Regions from separate parts of the Homo sapiens genome. Here region 2 is linked to region 1. Evidence: fine-mapped expression QTL. Tissue or cell type: whole blood. Region 1 holds a variant in brackets; the other region holds the start of a gene. All regions are shown on one strand. Distances are from middle to middle.

What was found. PIP is the estimated chance that this variant, and not a neighbour inherited with it, causes the effect.
Region 2: it holds the start of CLDN10, and the variant in region 1 is the best candidate, but not a certain one, in a credible set for the expression of CLDN10 in whole blood (TOPMed, PIP 0.57).

What each region holds. Positions count from the first base shown.
Region 1 is chr13:95,482,351-95,485,257 of GRCh38, forward strand. All of the region lies in intron 3 of CLDN10-AS1 (CLDN10 antisense RNA 1), which reads right to left. It also overlaps a transcript of CLDN10 not described here. Among named protein-coding and RNA genes, the nearest start is that of CLDN10-AS1, 50 kb to the right of the region's middle. The variant G/C (reference allele first, on the strand shown) is at 1,435.
Region 2 is chr13:95,550,998-95,553,904 of GRCh38, forward strand. It overlaps CLDN10 (claudin 10), which reads left to right and starts at 1,723. Exons shown (of 5, transcript NM_006984.5): 1 at 1,723-1,976. The coding sequence starts at 1,757.

The DNA.
Region 1 (2,907 bases):
CTCTAATATATATGGCCCAAGTCAGGCGCCGTGCACAGCTGGGTCTAAGAGCTGTGCTGATCTACAAAGCCCACATGAAGCTGCTGTGGCAGAAAGGGTCTAGAGCCTCACTGAGTCATGTCTTTTGGGGATAGATGGGTCTTCTAGGTGCCCATCAAATCACACCTTCTCGGGCTGCCTTCAGTGCACACCTATGAGACCAATCTTGCTGATCCAGGGCAGGAAGTCTAGTCCAGATCCACCCTGCTGTGTTACCCAGGAGCTCAGATTCAGTCTCAGAACCATCTGGATTGTTTTATTCTCATGATGTACTTAATCCTGATTGAAGTATAAATGAATAAACTGGCTGGGCGCGGTGGCTCACGCCTGTAATCCCAGCACTTTGGGAGGCTGAGGTGGGTGGATCACCTGAGGTCAGGAGTTTGAGACCACCCTGGCCAACATGGTGAAACCCCCATCTCTACTAAAAATACAAAAAATTAGCTTGGCATGGTGGCGTGTGCCTGTAATCCCAGCTACTCCGGAGGCTAAGACAGGAGAATCTCTTGAACCCAGGAGGCAGAGGTTGCAATGAGCCAAGATCGTGCCACTGTACTCCAGCCTGGGCAACAAGAGCGAAACTCCATTTCAAAAATAAATAAATACATAAATAAGCCCATTAAACATCACGAATTTAATGTGAGGCCAACATTCTTACTGGTGAGAAATGATTCTCCATCGTTCTTGGGAGAAAGTGACGCTGCCCGTCCTCAGGCCTGGGAGCTGCTGAGGAGGGGAGAGTGAGGAGGTTGGTTTATGTAAAAGGTGTGGCACTGCCACTCTGTGCAGATTCCTGGAGGATTCACCTGACTACTTATTGATTTTTCATTGAACAGCTTTCTCCTCGTTCAGACTGTGGGCTCTCTGAGAAGATGGGGAAACATTATTTGGGAGATTTACCCTTAGGGTGAAAATTATCTAAGCTTATTTCTCAATTTCCCTCTCCTCCCCTCATTTCTCATCTCTAATTTTTTTTCTTTCTTTTTTATTAAAATTTTTTGTAGAGACATGGTCTCACTATGTTGCCCAGGCTGGTCTTCAACTACTGAGCTCAAGCAATCCTCCTGCTTTGGCCTCCCAAAGTGCTAGGATTATAGGCATGACCCACTGTGCCCGGCCTCTTAATTTTTTAAGCATCACAGGTTGTATCCCCAGAAACCAGACTCTAAAGAGGCATTTCATGAAGGCGTGCCTGTGGGAGGGACCACACCTGTGGAAGGTAGGGGACAGAAGCAGGAGTGGGCAGAGCAGTGACGTTGAGCTACAACCCAAGGCTGACAGTCTCAGCAAACCTCACCAAGAGCTCTGGAGTTAGGTGGACTTTTAGAAACATGCCAAGCATGGCTGAGCTGGCCAAGCCCTTATGCTCCACCATCCATTGGTCACTCGATATGA[G/C]CTTCCCCAGGCATGAGTGTGCTATGGTCTGAATATTTGTGTCCCTCCAAAACTCGTATGTTAAAATGCTAACCCCCAAGGTGATGGTATTGGGATGTGGGGCCTTTGGGAGGTGATTAGGTCACAAGGATGGAGCCCTCGGGATGGGATTAGTGCCCTTATAGAAGACACCCCAGAGAGGTCCCTCCCTTATCCCTTCCACCACATGAGGATACAGTAAGAAGACATTCTCTATCAGTTAGGAAGCCAACCCTCACCAGGCATCAAATTTGCTGGTGCCTTGACTTTGGCCTTCCCAGCCTCTAGAATTGTGAGAAATACATTTCTGTTGTTTTTGAACTACTTAGTCTCTGGTAGGATAGCAGCCCAAAAGGACAAAGATAGGGCATGTCCTTGGGTGAGGCAGCTCTCTGCAGCTCAGTCACTTTCTGAGAGGGCTAAGAGCTACAGGCTGACTGCAGCAGCACTTCTAGCAGCTGGGGCCTGATGTCCTTCACTGTCCTTTCTGGGCAGCATATCACAGTATCCACTGCACACCACTCGGCTATCATTCTGTTCAGATACTTCTTGACTGGTCTTTCTACTTCTAATTTGTTCCATGTAGAATCTATCCTAAACACTACTTCCCTAATCTTTCTTAAAGGAAAATATTGGTAAAATATTTCATAGTCTGTCATTATGAATAATTTTATATGTCATTCCCCTGAAAAGAGGTGTTACAAGGTCAAGTTTTTTCAGTTATGCAGGAAATGTAAGTGTGTAAAGAAGCAGGATGAGGCCAGGTGTGGTGGCTCACGCCTGTAATCCCAGCACATTGGGAGGCCAAGGTGGGCAGATCACTTGAGGTCAGGAGTTCAAGACCAGCCTGGCCAACATGGCGAAACCCCGTCTCTACTAAAAATACAAAAAAAAAAAAAAAAAACCCACAAAAATTAGCCAGGTGTGGTGGCAAGCACCTGTAGTTCCAGCTACTCGGGAGGCTGAGGCACAAGAATCGCTTGGACCCAGGAGGTGGAGGTTGGAATGAGCCAAGATTGTGCCACTGCACTCCAGCCTGGGTAACAAAGTGAGACCCTGTCTCAAAAAAAAAAAAAAAAAAAAAAAAAAAAAAGAAGCAGAGTGCAATACAACATGGTATGATGGGGTCTTATTTAGTTTGATTTAGTTTGCCTCCACTTCACCCCACTGGTGAGGGAGGGATTCCGCCCTAGAGTTGAGAGGATGGTTGAATGTACAACATCCAAGCCTAGACAGATGAGATGGGCAGCAGGTAATTAGTCACATATGCTCATGGCCCAGGGAAGGACGACACTGCCCCACAGAGAGCCACGTGGGGGTTGCAGCTGGGAACAGAGTGAACCACCAGGAAGCTGTGGGAGGCAGGCTTTGTAGTAACAAGAGGGCGAGGTGCCCCTGGTTCCTGTAAGAGGATGTGTTTGGTTTGCTTGGATAATTCTACAGGCTGACGGGGAC
Region 2 (2,907 bases), 69 kb after region 1:
TTTAAGTTTAGTTTACCAGTGAACCTAACATGATACATCAGGACAAGCTGGGGTTCAGAGCAGAACAGTAGGGTAACCATGTCTGCATTGTCACCCTTGTACCCATTCACGAAAGCCATGGGACCATTAAGCACAGAGAAGCCCACTACCTGCCAGCCGCTGCACGGCTGCAACAAGAGTAGGACTTACTTCGTGTTCTCAGAGCACAGATTACAACATTCGGGTAGACATTGAAGAGAGACAGATTTGGGGCTCAATAGGAAGAAAAGCTTTTTTAAAGGGCTGTCAAAACAACATGAAGAAAAACAGAATAGATACGTTGCCATGCACTGAACTGCTGGTCCTGAAGGGTGGAGCATGGGCTAAACATTATCTCTAGAAATAGACAGGAACATTGTTTTGAGTGTGGAGCGTGTCCTGCTGGTCTACAGTGATTCTTCCAATCTAAGTTTTGATGATTCTATGTCCAGCTTCCTCTCTTCTCCAGTCACCTTGTCGCCTCTAATTTCACTGGGCACCCATTTGGTTAAAAAAAAAAAGTGACAAAGGGAAATTAAGAAATTCTTCACATTGAACCAGAGTGTTTCTGCCTAAAGATAGTGACACAGAGGGTTAGCACGAGATTTATCACAGCAGACTGATTGATAGGTTTTAGACCTTTCCTTACTTTTGGCAACAAGTGAAACCTGGAAGCTCATAACAAAACTGCAAGAACCTTTAAGTGGACAAATAATAACCCGTGTCCTTGTTCTCTCATTTATGCCCAGATTTGTGGCCTCAGGAGCCAGAAGTACACCTTGATCTTTATGTTTACCTTGAGACAGCAATGAAGGGATGAAGGAATGAATGAGTTTATATTTCAATTAGGCGTGAGAGATGGAGGTGGTTTAAAAAAAAATAAAAGACAAGATAGCAGTTTTGACTGGGATAACAGCATCCTTTCATAGAATAGCCTCTAGACCTGGAAGCTGGAAGGGACCTACAGGGAAAATGTGTTGAACAAATGCCCTCTGCGTAGTGCATTAGTATGAGTACACCAGCAAGATCAAGATCGTCAGGATGCCCCATCTGCTGCTATCTTGACTTTAGGCCTGTGCCACGCACCGTTTTGCCATGACTTTCCGCATAGCACCAGGCCAAAAAGAACTGCAGAGTTTTGAGGGCAAGGCCGGTTTCCAGCCCAGAATCTGCAATGATCCCTCCTTGACAAGTCAAACAGAGTCACCCAAACAAGCGTGGCACGCAAACCTTTAGAGTTCAGCAAACCGAGGGCTGAGTTACCAAACCGTGTCCTTTCAGGGCATGCAAAAGGCTTTTCCTGCTCTGCTTCTACAAGGTAGTCAGGAAGCCAAGCTATTTGCCTTGGGTAGGGCTGGGTGGGGGTGGTGAGGTGGGGGCGCAGCAGGTTGTCCACACCCGGTTGCCAGTCTGAACCTGAGCCGCTCCAACAAGCGAGCCCTTCTCCGCGGCCCTTTGGCTCAGGGGAGCGCAGGCCGGCCTTCCTCCCGCACGCGGGCGCGGGCCAGCTGCAGATGGAGAACCCGGGGGGCGACCGCGAGCCCTCTGAGGCCCCTCAAGGGACAGGGCATGGGTGTGAGGGGTCGCGTGCGCCCCCTGGCGCCGGGTCCGCTGGGCGGGGTGGTGGGCGGGGACGGTGGGCGGAGGCGGAGGCGGGAGGCGGAGCCCCGGGGTTGGGAGTGCGGGGGTCGCGGCGCAGAGTGGGAGCCGGAGAGCGAGCGCGGCTGCAGCCGGCGGCATGGCTAGCACGGCTTCGGAGATCATCGCCTTCATGGTCTCCATCTCAGGCTGGGTACTGGTGTCCTCCACGCTGCCCACCGACTACTGGAAGGTGTCTACCATCGACGGCACGGTCATCACAACCGCCACCTATTGGGCCAACCTGTGGAAGGCGTGCGTTACCGACTCCACGGGCGTCTCCAACTGCAAGGACTTCCCCTCCATGCTGGCGCTGGACGGTCTGCATCCCCGCGGCCCCCGCCCTCAGCCCTCCTTCCTTGATGGCCAGCCCGCTAGGCGCCCTCTCGCCCCCAATACCCCCAGCGGGACCCCTAGACTGGACTCCTCTGAGGCCCGACCCGTCTCTCCCAACAGGGCCTTAGGGAGCCAGGGACGCTCCTGGTGCCCGCCCTCTCCTGATGGCTGTCTCGCGGGGCGCCTGTTCGAGCCTGGGACCCCGGGAGGGGGGACACGCAGACAGGCCCGGGTTGGTGACTCCCAGGCGTCGGGGGATGGGGAAGCTTTGCGGTCCTGAGAGTCAAGGAAGCGGCTGCCCTCCCCCACCCCCCATATCTTGGGGACCGCTGGGACCCAGAGTTCATGCTGCAGGGGCTTGTCTCCTCCACCTCCCTCCCCTACGTTCCCCGAAGGCTGGGTTCTGATAAAAATGGTGTCATTGCAAGCCAAATCCGTTTGTCCTGACCTCCCTTGAGCCATTTCGTTGGTTCTTTTAAAAGTAGGCGGGGGTGGGGGTTGAGAGGTTGGAAGCGGGAAAACATATTGCAGAATTTGTTGTTGTTATTGTTTCCCTTTAAAGAGCTTCTACAAACTTGTCTGCCTAGGCAACACTACAAACACTTCCTCCGAGTTTTAGGAAAATAATAGCCCTTGCGGTGCCGCGATGAGTCCGCAGAGGGTAGGGAATCTTGGGCCGTGAGAGCGTGGCGCCGGGAGCTGACCAGTTCTGCATCCGAGTCCCCGGTGCCTGCTGCTGTCCTGGGTTGTTCCTTTGTGGAGGTTCACCTGCGTTGCTCTGGTTAGTCAGGCCTTATGCTGGTAGCAGCTGGTGGATATTCACACAGAACTCTGGCTCTGTTGAGTTTCAAGACAACAGCCGATGTCAGCCCGGTCCCATTGATTGCTCAAGTTCTAGGCCCGTTGCTTCCAGGA